Homo sapiens: one gene and its partner. The protein of the gene in region 1 purifies or fractionates together with the protein of each later gene. This does not show direct contact. Each region holds a gene or a part of one and is shown on either strand. Other genes may lie near its edges.

Evidence for each region. Proteins that work in one complex are often made in the same cells at the same time.
Region 2: the proteins of ELAVL1 (region 1) and MKRN1 purify together in Homo sapiens (affinity purification with western blotting; 2 studies listed by BioGRID, with this or other methods). This does not show direct contact.

The regions. Positions count from the first base shown.
Region 1 is NC_000019.10:7,959,626-7,969,186, forward strand, and holds part of ELAVL1 (ELAV-like protein 1), read right to left. Parts: intron 8,166-9,561; coding exon 7,940-8,165; intron 4,183-7,939; coding exon 3,858-4,182; 3' UTR 1-3,857. UniProt on the Homo sapiens protein: RNA-binding protein that binds to the 3'-UTR region of mRNAs and increases their stability.
Region 2 is NC_000007.14:140,451,514-140,457,047, forward strand, and holds the end of MKRN1 (E3 ubiquitin-protein ligase makorin-1), read right to left. Parts: intron 5,354-5,534; coding exon 5,139-5,353; coding exon of another isoform or gene 5,135-5,138; exon of another isoform or gene 4,702-5,134; intron 4,388-4,701; coding exon 4,277-4,387; intron 3,721-4,276; coding exon 3,582-3,720; intron 3,217-3,581; coding exon 3,004-3,216; 3' UTR 1,520-3,003; downstream 1-1,519. UniProt on the Homo sapiens protein: E3 ubiquitin ligase catalyzing the covalent attachment of ubiquitin moieties onto substrate proteins. These substrates include FILIP1, p53/TP53, CDKN1A and TERT.

The sequences.
Region 1 (9,561 bases):
GCCATTAGAGGTCAGGGGAAATCAAAAAGGTTTGGAAATGTGAACCCTGCCTGGGATCCGAGATTCAGATTCTACTGCCATCATTACACGCCAATTGCCAATGCCACTTAAAAGAAAGCACTTGTGACTTCAGGGCTGTCTTGCGAAGTTTGGGGACAGGAACCCCTGACCCCCAGAGTCAGCTAAACCCCAGGGGTCTCTGCTAAGGAGCTGCCTCAGGTCCTAGTAGGTGAGGTAGGTCTGGGGAAGATGGGAGGGGATTGAGGTGGAGGGTGGGGTGGAGGGACAGGATAGAGGCCTCCTGTCAGCTGAATTCTTATTCTCTTTCATCCAACACAGGAAGGCTGCGAAAAGCACATGGAAATAAAAGGGGGCTGAATCGGATGTGAAATGTAACAGCTGAGTGATGTCAATTTCGATTTTTCAAGTCCGATGCCGGACTGGGTAAGTCATGTCTTTTCAATGCCTGGTGGACAAATGGCCTTCATTTGGAAGCAAACCGGGTCAAGGAATTGCCACTAACCGTCTTCGGGTGCTTCTATTTCTCTGATCCAGCAGGGACCCCTGGGCTGCCGGCTCCAAAGGGCCGGTCTTGGCTCCCAACAGCAGCACGGTTCAGTCCCTGGAGGCTGGGTCTCCAGGACTAAGGCCAAGCGCAGACTCTCAGAGGTTAAGGCAGCTGCCCTTGGCCAGGAAAAGGCTCACCTTCCAGGAGAAGGTGGCGGAACCCACCCAGCACCACCTGCGGGCGGGCCCCCGAGGAAGCCCATGAATTTCAGGATATTCACGCAGGATGGTGGCCGGGGAGGGGACTCAGCACCCGGGAGGGAATCAGTCACAGAGCTGCGACTAGAGGCACAGCCAGCACAGAAAACTGCGGCTTGGCAAATTACACTGAAAACGAAATAATGGCAGAGCCAAGGGGGAACAAGGGAGAATTCATCAGGAAGCAGGTTCACAAATTCGGAGCTGCCTGGGGTCTAACTACCAGAGGAAGTTACACACGGGTCAAAAGGGAATTCAATCAAAGCCTCTTTGGTATTTCCCAAACCAGATTTTTGATAAATGAACATTATCTACTCTGAACGCTTTTTCATCGAAATTCCCAAATAAAAGCAGAGCACTCATTTTTGCTAAATAGAAATACAACTGATCTATGTAAAATTTTTTAAGAAATGGTTTCTTTTGGGTTGAGCCTTTTTTAAGAAAAGGGATCTCCCCTTTGCAAACAGGCCTTGATAAGATGTAATGAACTTTGAGGACACAGGGCCAGCAACTAGAACCTTGATGGAACAGAGATTGCTTTTCAGGAGTGACAGTTGTTAAGCTAAATCCTTCCACAAGCTTGCAAGCTAAGACTCCCAAATAAAGGCTTTGGAATTTTTTAGCTAGAAGGCTGTTCAAACAGCGGAGACCACATACAATGAGAATGTTCCTGAACTGAGAAACTTCAGGGAACTTTCAAAGGCTCATATACTTCACAGTTTCTTCTCACCTGTCCCAGCATCAGAATAATTGATAGGATTCAGATAAAAGGGGGCGAGGAAAGAAGCTGAGGTGCTACAAGCCCGTCATCATTTTCACAGTTGAAGCTTAAGACAGAGTTCTCTGTTGAATGCTAGCTATGGGCATGTGTGGGAGTGAGACTCCAGGGGGAGTTTCAGAAGCGGGAATCCCGCCTTCCATCAGAAGGGTGTTGGCTCCCACCTTCCATCAGAAGGGTGTTGGCTCCCACCTTCCATCAGAAGGGTGTTGGCTCCCACCTTCCATCAGAAGGGTGTTGGCTCCCACCTTCCATCAGAAGGGTGTTGGCTCCCACCTTCCATCAGAAGATGCTGGCCCAGGGAAACCTGAAAGGCTTCTTTTTCCAGGAAAGCATTCTGGTCCCAGGATGCAGACTGCTCTCGGGCAACAGAGCAGGGACCCTCTTTTGTGTCGAATCCGGGCAATGGGCCTCGGTTTTGGCTTTTCCTGAGGATCTGGGATTCTGTGGGAGAAAGGAGGTCCTCTCTGGCACCAGGCCGACTTTTATGAGACACAGCCTGGGTACGGATGGCAACATCATCAATTTGCAAGGATCGCGCACACAGCCCCTCAGTAAAAGATCAGGGAAAGGGGAGGGGATGGGCATCCTCAATTGTCCAGGGGCCTCTCGAGACGCTGACCTGCTCTGGGGACGGTGGTGCCTGCCTATTGCTCAATTTCACACTTCAATAAATAAATACATAAATAGGTATAAATAAACAGATAAATACAGCCATCATCTCATGAGAGCAATAACTAAAAAACAGCCTACGGTCACGTTTTAGTCTCACGTCAAGGTTAAAAACTGCTGGTACTAAGTTATCCTGTTTGTGATTCTCTCTGTAAACTAGTTATTTATAAACGCCAGATCCCAGTCCTGAGGAGTTTTGGGTGATCTGGCCCTGCCTATTTCACAGGCTTTCTCTTTCACCCTTCCTCCGGGCTCCTGGTTTAAAAGCCACCAGCCTGTAACTGCACATTCTTGCGTCACAGATTCAGAAATGCTTTTGCTTGAGGCAAGGATTGGTTTCTTAAGATCTTACGACTCCTCCCTGAATGCTGGGCCACCTGCACCTTCCCTAGCCAAAAAGAAAGAAAAGGTAAAATAAAAAACAAAACAAAATTCGAGCAAAACAAAATCAAATTTAATGGTCTTAAATGCAAAAGTAAAAACAAACAAAAAACACAAAAAAGCAAAAGAAAATTAACAGAACAGAACAACCCAAAATGTCAAGGCAGTTATGAAGAGAACTTTGAGGGTTAATCTTTAAAACTACAAATCAAAGGTTTTGGTTAATAGATAACTGGCAAGAAGTAAGTACTTTTCTGCTGAGTGTTCATACAAAAGCAAAATTCCAAAACAAAATCCGACTAAAATAGAAAAAGGTCTAAGCGCTCACGAGAAGGGATGCGAGAAATACAATGCTCAAATGTTTCTGTGTTATTAAAATACAGAGCCATTTTACGCCTCCAAGCTATGTTAAATGCTCTGGAAAACGGGAGAAATTATCGTGAACAACAGTATCCAATGTGTGGGGCGCTGTGCATGCAATGTGTGGACAGAAACTCGGGATGTCAGAGTAGCAACACATCTTCAGGCGTGCCTGGAGCTTAGATCTGACTCTGGAATATACTGGAGTTTCCCTGAAACTCTTTGGTCCATTCCCATTGGTGCCTGGGCTTACGAAACACGTTTGTGTCCTTCTCTGGAGGGCCCGCCCAGCATGCAGCCCGTGGCCCCCGGCCCCAGTGGTGGCCCACGCTGGACGGGCCCGCCGCCATTCCCAGGACCACTCGGCAGAGCCCGGGACTGAGTGAGCAGGAGGTGGCAACGGGACCTGCCTGGAAAAGGAACTTCCTGTCAACCAAAGCATACATCGCTTACAATGTTGAAGCGGTTGAGAAAACGCACACTCAGCATCTGTCTAACATCTTTAGATTAAAAACTAAAACTAAAAGGTGATTTTTTTGCTACCCAGTCTGTGGAGACATTGAATGAAACGCGTGTTAGACAGTCTTAGAGGTTAAAGCATGCTTCAGGTTCACCACCATCCAGAGGGACTGGTTAGTCAATGCAGTTCTACTTAGATTTCTGTTTAATATATATCTTAAAGGAAATAACTTACGAAACTTAAGATTGGTCTAACATTGTGGGATTTCAAACATTTGAACATGTCGGTTGCATCCCAGAGTATAAAAACCTTCTCACTTCTCATTCAGACAAAGACAAACACTTGTGAAAATTGGCGCAAAATGAGTTGTACACTAACAAGAAAAGTTTCAACTCCTTCACTCTTAATTATCTATTCCGTACAAAAAAAAGCATGAGCGAGTTATTTGTGGGACTTGTTGGTTTTGAAGGAAACCTGTAAGATTTTGTCCCCCAGGCGGTAGCCGTTCAGGCTGGCTATGGCCATCGCGGCTTCTTCATAGTTTGTCATGGTCACAAAGCCAAACCCTTTGCACTTGTTGGTGTTGAAGTCGCGGATCACTTTCACATTGGTGACGGCACCAAACGGCCCAAACATCTGCCAGAGGATCCCCTCGTCGGCATCCTGCCCCAGGTTGTAGATGAAAATGCACCAGCCGGAGGAGGCGTTTCCTGGCACGTTGACGCCAGAGAGCCCGCTCATGTGATCGACGCCCATGGGGGAGAACCTGGCAGACAGAGAGCAAGCGTCAGGCCACGGTCAGCGCAGGCGGCCTGGGGATGGGGCAAGGCCTGGACGCATGCTGACCATGGCCGCTGGGCCCCATCCCGCTCTGCGCAGCCACGAGGTGCTCACGGTTGAGACACCTGCATGGGTCAAAACCCTGGGAGGAATTAAATACAGTAGTGGAGGGGCGGGACCCTGTTCTGTAGGGAGCTGACTCTGAGGGGCTGGTTGGTGCCCTCCACTCCTCCCACTGTGTATGTCGGGGTTTCTGTTTAGGGGTTCCTGCGGTTCCCCACATTTTAGATGATGGGCGCTTCTCCTGGTCCTCCGTTGAAGGTAGAAATGCTCTGCAGGCCTCTGACAGCCTCAGTTCTCCCTGGAGGAAACTCTCCTCGTACTGTGGGGTACGTGCAGGGGCTGAACTCCTTTTTCCAAATTTTGCACCTTCCCCTTATCATGACCCGCCCCCAAGCGTTGACAGCCCAGTGGTCTCTGGTTAGAGCACGCCTTTGCCAGGGCCACTTGTAGGGCACAAGAATTCCTTCCCAAGCACCAGGCAACCAACCCTCTGTGGCTAGAGCTCAACATCCCCTGAGGGTCAGGGGCCAAACCACTGAGGACTGAGAACTCAAGGGACAGGGAAGGGCCCTGGGACACCAGCAACGGCAGGCTCACCAAACTTGACCACACACGTGGGGCTCTTTCCACAGTGATACTTTTATTTACATAAAAAATAAGCCTTTCTGGGCCAGGCATGGTGGCTCAAGCACGGAATCCCAGGACTTTGAGAGGCCAAGGTGGGAGGATCACTTGAGGCCAGGAGTTTGAGACCAGCCTGGGCAACACAGAGAGACCCCATCTCTAGGAAAAAAACAAAAACCTCAGAAAACAAAAACTAAACTAAACTAAAATAAAATAAAGCCTTCTGAAAATGTACAGATGCTGTAATAAGGATTAAGGTATATGACAAAACAGTTCCTAAAGCTATGTTTCCCTCTGGAACTTTCTCACATTAAAAAAGTAAAGGTCTGAGGGTCAGTTTGGGAATATCTGAGTAGCATACATTTGTGAAGCCGGCATCTGTGAAGCTGCGTGATGCATGCAGAGAAGCATTACCTGCTCCAAAATAAAACTGGGCTTCAGGCTATGGCCCTATCAGCCAAGCGCAGCCCTGCAGGCCCCAGCCGGGGTAAACGAGTGCCTTCAAGCGCTGTTAAACAGATTCACCCTCTCGACAGACACGAGAGGACACCAGCTGCCATGGGGCAGCTCACTAGCCCAACGGTGATTTTCTTTATTTTTGAGAGAGGGTCTCACTATGTTGTCCAGTATGGTCTCAAACTCTTAGGCTCAAGTGATCCTCCTGCCTCCTGAGCAGCTGGACCACAGGTGTGTGCCACCATGCTGGCTAATTTTTACATTTTTTGTAAAACCATTTTCAGGATGGAAAGACTAAGAAGAAAGGGTCTATGTTGTCCAGGCTGGTCTCAAATTCCTGGGCTCAAGTGATCCTCCTGCTTTGGCCTCCCAAAGCGTTGGGATTACAGGCGTGAGTCAATGCGCCCGGCCTTCTTAGGAATTACTCTTGTTGGTAGTTTTTCTCCTGCTGATTTCTCTGGTCTTGACAGTCATAAATCTTCTCCTCTCTTCCTCCAACCCAATTCTTTTCCATCCCTTATCTCTGGGCTTTTCTGGACGTGATAGGGACTGACTGCAAACTCACTGCAGTCTGGGTCTTTCTTCCTCCTCTTCTCTCAGCCTCCTGAGCGAATCTTTCCCTCCAGACTCTCCCGCCCTCCCCACTTCCTTCCATCACTTTGTCTTAGTGGTTGCCCTGCCACTCACTTTTCCTGCTCGACCAGAAATGTCCACTTCTCCGGTTTCCCCTTTCTTTTCTTGTCCTCATTACTGGGACCAGAGTCCCATGTCTCCTCCAACCTTCCCTGTTTTCCTTCCAGGCTAAGGAGCAGTTCACCCAACCCCACCGCCCATATAGCCCGCCCCATCAAGAGCAGGACCGACTGTATGATGGGATTTCTAGAGCTGGATTTTAAAATTCAGCTCCATTCCGTCCAGAGAAGCTTCCCCAGCCTTGTCTTCAAGCCAGAAACCTCAAGGAAGGCAGGCCAGCTTTGGAATTTGAGCCAGGCTGAGAATGCTGGGTAACTCAGCCATGAGAATAACACCTCTCACAGCAGCATGTGTGGCACTGGGCAGCGCCCACCCAGCTTCACTGTTAAAACAACGATGGGGCCGGGCTCACGCCTATAATCCCAGTACGTTGGGAGGCTGAGGTAGGAGGATCACTTGAGGCTAGGAGTTTAAGACCAGCCTGGGCAACACAGTGAGACCCCATCTCAACAAAAAATAAAAACATTAAAAATTAAAAAAAAAAGGGAAATCTATCCTTGTCATACCTGAGATAAGCCCTCGATGCCACTCCTTGAGGTTTTGACAAAAACAAAACAGCCCTGACACTGAGACCTCTGCTGTTTCTGAGGCGACAGCACACCACATCCTGGAGTCCAAGGCCCTGACTCTCATCGCCTCTATCCCACTTCATCCTGGCAGCCAGAACCATTTTCAGGATGGAAAGACTAAGGAATCCGGGAAAACTCCTCCCCTCTAGGACAGGGCTTATAAACAGAATGCATACATACAACATTCACCAATACAAATGACTCCACGAGGCAGGTGTTTGAAAAAGGTTTGCCTTAGGGCTGCTGATCAAATGTCTAAGAATGCTGGAAGATCTACTCTCACCCGAGTATACCTAAGGCAGCATCTTTTCTCCCACAGATATGAGACGTTCATTATTCATTTATTTTTTAGAGAAAGGGTCTCACTCTATCACCCAGGCTGCAGTGCAGTGGTGCAATCATAGTTCACTGCAGCCTCCACCTCCTGGGTTCAAGCGATCCTCCCACCATGGCCTCCTGAGTAGCTGGGACTAAAGGCCAGCATCACCATGCCCAGTTTTTTTCATTACTTTTTGTAGGAACAGGGGTCTCACTTTGTTGCCCAGGCTGCTCAAACTCGGGGCTTCAAGTAATCCTCCTAACTCGGCCTCCTGAGAGCTGAGATTACAGGTGTGTGCTCCCCCACACTGGGCATGAAACCATCTTTAAAGCTCGCGGCTCCGTTCTGCTGTTACTAGGAACTGCGTGCTGAAGCTCTAAGTGCTCACGCTCACAGCAACTGGTGGGGACTGGTGCTGTCTTTTTTTTTTTTTTAATAAAAACAAAAAAAGACAGGTTCTGGCCCTGTGGCCCAGGCTGGAGTGCAGTGGTATGATCACAACTCACTGCAGCCTCAACCTCCTGGGCTCAAGCAATCCTCCCACCTCAGCTTCCTGAGTTGCTGCAACTACAGGAGCGCACCGCCATGCCTGGCCAGCTTTGTATTTTTTGTAGAGATGGGGTCTCGCAATATTGCCCAGGTTGGTCTTGAACTCCTGGGCTCAATCGATCTTCCTCTCTCAGCCACCCAAGGTGCTAGGATTACAGGGATAAGTCACTGTGTCCAGCCTGGAGTCACTGTTTTGATTCCCATGAAAGACAACGCCCAATCGGAAGTAAACGGCTTTCCTACAGACACCTTTCTGATGGAGGTTGTGGTGTGGAGCTGCAGAATGATTCTGAAACGCGCTCTCTGACGGGATCAGTCTATCATCCCCGTGGTTTCTATTCTGTGGCTGTGCCGTCGCCTGCCAGCGGGGCTAAGTATGGCTTTCAGGAGCGCGCACCCTCCCGACCCACCTGAATCTCTGCGCCTGGTGGTGAACGGGGCCTCCGAACCGTCGCGCTGGCGAGTGGTACAGCTGCGAGAGGAGTGCCACGTTTTTGTTCTGGTTGGGGTTGGCTGCAAACTTCACTGTGATGGGCTCAGAGGAACCTGGGGGTTTATGACCATTGAAACTGGTAATTGCCTCTTCTGCCTCCGACCGTTTGTCAAACCGGATAAACGCAACCCCTCTGGACAAACCTTTTCAACAAATCAACAAAAACGGAGTTAGGGGGAAAAACGCTAGGACTTTCAAAACTGAAAAGCAAAAGTCAGGTCAGTCTACTGTGGGCCAGGCTAGAAGTCTGGTTAAGGAAATAAACAAAAATTAAACCTAAAAGTGAAAACAAATGGATGGAGTAAAGAAAACCAATGACTAACAGAAGATTAAAGCTTCAGACTTTCTTCCCGGCTGAAGCCATGACTCCACAGTGTTGGCGCCCAAAGATATTTTGGTGACAGACATCCCCAATAGACACCCAGGCCTCTTATTTGGAAGAAAGCAACATTAGGAAACAGCACATCCACCGTCACTATTTAGCTGCCAGGTGTCCGCCACAGAGTGGGTGCGTGGGTGTGGTGTGTGGTTGGTGGGTAACAGGGTTGGAGTGGGGACTGCGTCTGAGAGATCCTCCCTGGGCTCAGGGGCCACTCTCCTGGCTGCTGTCTCTGGGCCCGCTGTGACAGCAGGCCTCGTGGCCGAGCCTGCTGCAAAGGTGCCCAGCTCAGCCTGCATGCCTTCTCCTTCATGCCAGGAGGGAGTAGGGTCCTGTGGCCACCCCCTGCCAGCTCCATGCTGCTGCTGTCACCTCACTCCTGTCTTGGGATACTCCACTCTAAGGTCCTACACCCCTCCCGTGGGCCCCAAATTGCCATCAGAATCAAATGAGGCCAGAACACTGCCCAGGCTCATACAGCAGAGCTGAACCTATCCACAGGCTCGCCAGGCAGGCCTGGGGTCCCTGTATGGGAAGGGCCAGGGCCCCAGCAGCCAAGCCCAGAGGGCATCTTCTCTTGCCACCTCAACTGAGCCACCCAAGGGCCAGTCCCGGGTTCCCGGCTAAACCCAATCCCTGGACGGAGCAGTGTGAGACCTGAGGACCGTCCTGCTATGGGGGACATTGGTCAGCTGGGCATGGGTGTGAGATGCTGAGCAAGGCGGGTGGAAGGAGAGCATGGCTGTCCTGCACCCCTGCCTGTCCATACACTAGGCCCGGGAGGGAAACATGAGTAGCCCGTCCCTTGAGGAACCTGGGAAGCGGGCTGGAAACTGGATGAGGGGGATGGGGATGAGGGCACACTGAGCAGCGCACTAGCTCCTTCTCTGGGGGCAAGGACATGATGGAGTCAGGGGAAGGCCCAGGGGTGGGAGAGGTGACAGCTGAGAGGCCAGTCTGAGAGTGACATCACTAGGCGGGAGTCACGGGTGTGTCCCAGTGGGAGAGGCCGTCACAGACAGCCCAACCCAAACACCCTGGTTCTCAAGACTTTTAGTCAAGCCAGGCCAAGGCTCATGCCTGTGGTCTCAACTACTCCAGAGGCTGAGGCAAGAGAATCGCCTGAGGCCAGGAGTTCAAGACCAGCCTGGACAACACAG
Region 2 (5,534 bases), on another chromosome or scaffold:
CTTATTGTGTACAGTGGCAGGGAAGAGGCTGAAATTGTAGTTTTGTGCAAATGAGAAGGTGAGACGTTCCACCCATCAATGTTTACACCTCAGCTTCTTTTGCAACAGGCAATTAACACTTGGGGAAAGAAGAGAACTCGCTCTCAATGCAGCCATTGAGGGTAGCAATCCACATTACAGACTACTCGGACTAGTACAGAAGCTTCCACTGCCTTTTCCAAGATACAAAAGAGTTGCTCTAAACATACACTTCTCTCCATCCCAGAAGTGACCAACTGCCACTCCCTGGACCTTGCTATCCCCCTCTCCCTGTTGCAGATTCAGATATGCAAACGATGCTTCTTCCTACTTTCCAGAATTGCTCAAGGCTCTCTCCACCTCCTAGCTCCAGCACTCCCAACCCATTCTCAGGCTCTTCCCCATCCCTCTGCATGTCCCCAGCATAGCCTGACTGGTACACCTGAGGGTGGACTTAACTCCCCTGGGAGTTAGCTGCTGGGCTACAAGCTTACAGAAACAGACCAGACTACTCAGTGGATCCCCAGTTGTTATCATGACCACAGTATAAGCCCACTCAGAAATGATTCCTAGATGTTTAAACATTTTCCGATAGCATTTTTTGAGTTGGAGTCTTGCTCTTTCGCCCAGGCTAGAGTGCAGTGGCGAGATCTTGGCTCACGCCACTCTCCTGCCTCAGCCTCCCGAGTAGCTGGGACTGCAGGGGCCCGCCACCATGCCCAGCTAATTTTTTGTATTTTTGGTAGAGACAGGGTTTCACCATGTTAGCCAGGATGGTCTCGATCTCCTGACCTCGTGATCCGCCCGCCTCGGCCTCCCAAAGTGCTGGGATTACAGGCGTGAGCCACCGTGCCCGGCCCCCATAGCACAAATTCTTTATTTTTTTCACTCTATTGCCCAGGCTGGAGTGCAATGGCATGATCTCAGCTCACTGCAACTTCCACCTCCCACGTTCAAGTGATTTTCCTGCCTCTGTAATCCCAAAGTGCTGGGATTACAGGCGTGAGCCACCGCACCCAGCCATAAATTCTTAACATAAATACTAAAATCGAGGAGCAGTTATTTTTACAAGTGTGGAAAAAAGGTCACCTGAAGGTCTTCCATGGGAGTAGCAGAATGGTTCTTACTCACAAAAAATTCACAATAATGAAAACTCCTTAAAAATTCACGAAATAATTATGCAGAACAATAAGCTTTCAAAATACAATTATATTATGACCTTCCCCCGTTATCTAAGGGCATGAAGCAAGTTCAACCGCAAGTGCATGGTAGCAGAAAACTGCCAGTGCCTTTTGCTCAACAGGTGGCCCAGCGTTAGTCTTGAACATTTTCAAGTATAGGATTGTTTGATGACCCCGGCTAGTTAAGGTTTCCCTTTCTCTCTCACACACATTTCTCAAAGTACCTATCCTCCCGAATATCCGACAAGGGACCGATCGAAGAGTCAGTGAAAGAAAAACATCATTATTCTTTGACATCGGCACATTTCAAAAACAGCTCATTACACAGAACAGCCAACTTTTTTTTTAATTGTTTTATTTGGGAAAAGTGCTTCTTACAAAAGGGCAGCTGCAAAATACAGAGACCTCTGCAACAATTATTTGTTTTTTCTTAAAGTGAAAGAATGGGTGGGATCCAAGGAATCAAAGCAGTAGATGGACAAACCAGGAGCATCCCCGAGTTATTTTCAGGAAACAGAGCAACAAAACACAAAGGTACAATTTCCAATCAAGGAATTCTTCCAACAACTTAACTTTAGCTAATCTCAGGGATTCCCAAGCCCTCCCTTTCGGTGGAAAAGTATGACTTATCACTGCAAACCCATTACTCCACTACAATAAACACCTTAGAACAGAGTTTTGAATCACGTCTGTCTACCTGAAAGCTCAGGGGTGGAATGAGGCAAATACCCACAAAAACAAACACAAAAACCCGACAACAAAATGCCTCAAGTGAGGACAAAGGTTTCTCAGAAAGTGCCTGTACTGGAAAGGCTAGATCGTAAAACATTAAATACAACTGTGTATCCAAGACCCAGTTTGTGTTATTATATGGGATAACCAGGTAGTTTTAACCTCTATGGCTAACCCCATTTCTCTATTTATATAGACAGAGCTAGCACTGCTATATTGACAACTACCAATATACTGCTTTGCCCTTTAAGATCTATCTGCCACACAAGGCTTAAACCACTAAACCAGGTTTTTCTACTAAGGCTAAGAATACTGCATCTATGCAGGGATGAGAAGCTTATCACACACCCACACACTCACACCATGTCAGCCCTTGGGAGCCAACTTCCAACTCTGCATTGATGTTATGCCTCTCTATCTTTTATACGTATTCTTTCTCAATTTTCCTATCATGCAAAACAGTAAAAAATCTCAACACATTCACACCTGATTCTGGTTACCCAGTAGTATTACTTGTGTGCAATTAAACAAGAGACCAAAACCACAGAACAAGTGCACGTGGTAGGGATTACAGGGTAGGGAACAGATATAAAAACACAGATGTGCAGATTTCACCAGAAACCTCAAGGATCCACATCCCATGTCTGGGGCAGAGGGCTATTGGCCAGCTTAGGTCCCTTCACCCATCACTCCTATTCTTGGACCCCAAAGCAGGGCCACTGCTTTTACTTTTGAACCTGGGGTCCTCAAAATGAGTGTGTGAAAAGTCCATAAATGCAATCTGGTTGAAAACAGATGACGCAACACACCTACACTAACTGTCTGACAGTTAAATTCGTGTTACAAAAAACTAACTTTAAGATTTATTTTTGTAACTTTTTTCAACAGGGAAAACAACACACTCCTCAGGGAAAGGTGAGGGGTTGAGAAGACAGGCCCTGGGTAAAAATTCTTAGGACAGCACCTGGAGTTGAGAGGCCTGCCTAGGAGAGAACACAGGCACTGCCACACCACCACAGGGGACAGCTGCTGTCTGAGGTCAGCAGACCAGTTCACACGCCACGCAAGGTTGCTATAGATCCAAGTCATAAAAATCTTCCAGCTCATCATGAAACAAGTCCCACTCATCTTCAGAGTCTGTTAGTTCGTCGTCCCCACCTGCAGCCAAAAGCATAAGCAACATCTCGCCCAGCTCAAAGGTGACAACCTCTTCTTCATCGTTGTCAAAGGGGTTGCTGTTCTCTCTTTCCTCAATGAGTTCCCAGAAGTGGTTCCTTCGTTGGGCCTGTAAAAAACAAGGCCATGATAGGGATGGCACTGTCGAGCAGTATCTTCTATCCTGTTGTTTATAAGGCAAAACGTCCAGCACACCAGAGGGCATGACGAACCAGACTTCTTAGTTAGGGTTTCCATTTACCACTTCCTCCCCTCTGGTTACTTCATGGAAATCGTTTAGGCTAGAGCTTTAACACACATTTTTTCTTCCTTTCCTATCCCTCCCAGTTTTCTGAGGTTTGTTTCCTCCTTTAATACTCTACACTTTCGCTCCCAGACCTGAGCGTTAACCTTCTCCTTCCCCTACCCCAATATGTGCAGGACTCAACTGATACCTTGGAATTTCCCCTCCTTTAAAAAAACAGTGAGAGTTACCCGGTATCTGCTTGATGTTCCCACTTTCTGTCTCTGTGGCTCCTCTCTACGGCCATCAGGGTACGCATGCTTGTAAAAACAGTTCCCTCCAAATGGGCAGCTCCCACGTCCTTCATCAAAATACCTGCACGCCTTGTTGCTGGAAAGGAAAATATCGCAACCCTTATTCACAGTGGATTTCAGGTCTGTATTTGACTATCATCCGGGGTTTCTTTAAACAGGTAGGGATAGAACCAGTATGTCAGCTTACAGCCCTCCCCAAGATGTGTTCTTATAAACATGTGTGTGCCAATGCAAGAAACACTAACTAGAAACCGGTAACTCTGTTCAAGTCTATGCTGGTTAATAGCTCTAGTACAAGCAGATGCCATAGAGAGAAAATCTTCTAGAAAGCCAACACATGAGAACATAGGACAGCTATGACACGGATTCAGAATAAGGTAGAACCCCACTCATGGGGCCTTACTTGTCAACAGTAGAGACCTCTTTATAACACAGTCCCTTGGCATGGACCCCAAGGACTGTGTTATAGCAAGATATATACTGGATGTTATCAGGGTGACAAAATAAACTGTCCTGGGAAGTCAAAGAAGGGTAGGAAGGAGGTAGGAGTGTATAATGCAGCACCATTCTTTTCAAAGTGAACCCAAGCTCTGTTGGGCTCTTCGCTTGAGAAAAGGCTGCAGTGCTCATACCTCATTGCCTCCTTGTATTTCAGAATGAGTTTCTGCTTCTCTTCTTTCTCCTCCACCCAGTACTCACTTGGAATGACAAAGTTAGATGTGATCCGGCATTCTGGGCAGGACCTGGGAAACAATGAACAGGCTGCAATGCAAATTCCCCTTTTACAGGCCCACTCTTCAAGGACACACCCTGGTGTGTCGCCTCCAGACTTAAAGACTTAACTGAAAGGCACGTGGGCATTTCCTGAAAGGGTTCCACATACTGTCACACAACTGACCATTTCTTTCAAGCAAGGCAACCTCCTTTATAAATCCAACTCAAGGGCTAGCCAGTTCTTTTTTTTTTTTTTTGAAAAATATAACTTAGGTAAAAAACAAAAACAAAAGAAGACATTTCACACAGACTCCTTTTTCTTTCGTTTAAATAAATTTATTTCTTGTAGCTTTGCTCTGTTTAGATTATGTGGTTTTTGTTCAGTTATGAGAACAATCTTTAAAGGATGGTGGATTGTTGGCTAGCTTAATGAATGGAATAGGAAAGTGGAAATGTAAAACGTCAGGAAACATACATTCAGAGCTAGATCAGTTTGTTCACTGAGCCTAAACTGGCTAATAATCCATTAAACACAATCTCCTCAGAAAAAGCACGAAGATTCTAACTGATACACAGGGTTTCCTCATTCAAATAAAAGTAGATAGACCAACTAACCTAGAAGCTAGCTGAAATACAAAGAAGAAATCCCCATTAGAATATCCCAGTTTCAAGATAAAATGCATGCATTTAAATGCGGTCCATCTGGTTGAAAGTTGGCACAAGTTACTAAATTCTTCCCCAAAAGAGAAAGCACAAATGAAGACTGGGGAGGAGTCTCACTTTATGATCTTGCTCTCAAATTGCTTAGCACTCCTCCACTTGCGAATGCACTTGAGACAGTAGGTGTGGTTGCAGTTGGAGAGGATCCCGAAGCGGCGCTCACTGGGGTTGGCTTTCTCATAGACCACCTCCATGCAGATCCCACACACCATGTCCTTGCTGCGCTGCACGGCAAATGAGAGCTCCATGTCCTTCTCATGGGCCTCAATGCACGACTAGAGAAGGTGGAGAGAGAACAAGTGGAATCCAGTCATTGAACCCTGAAAAACTTGAGCAACAGTTAATGATTCACAGTCAAAGAATCAAATAGTCAACTGAAAAAACAATGTTCCCAAGCTGACACGAAAATTAGCTTTGCTGACAAGTAAACACAGGTGTGGTGTTTTTTTTTTGTTT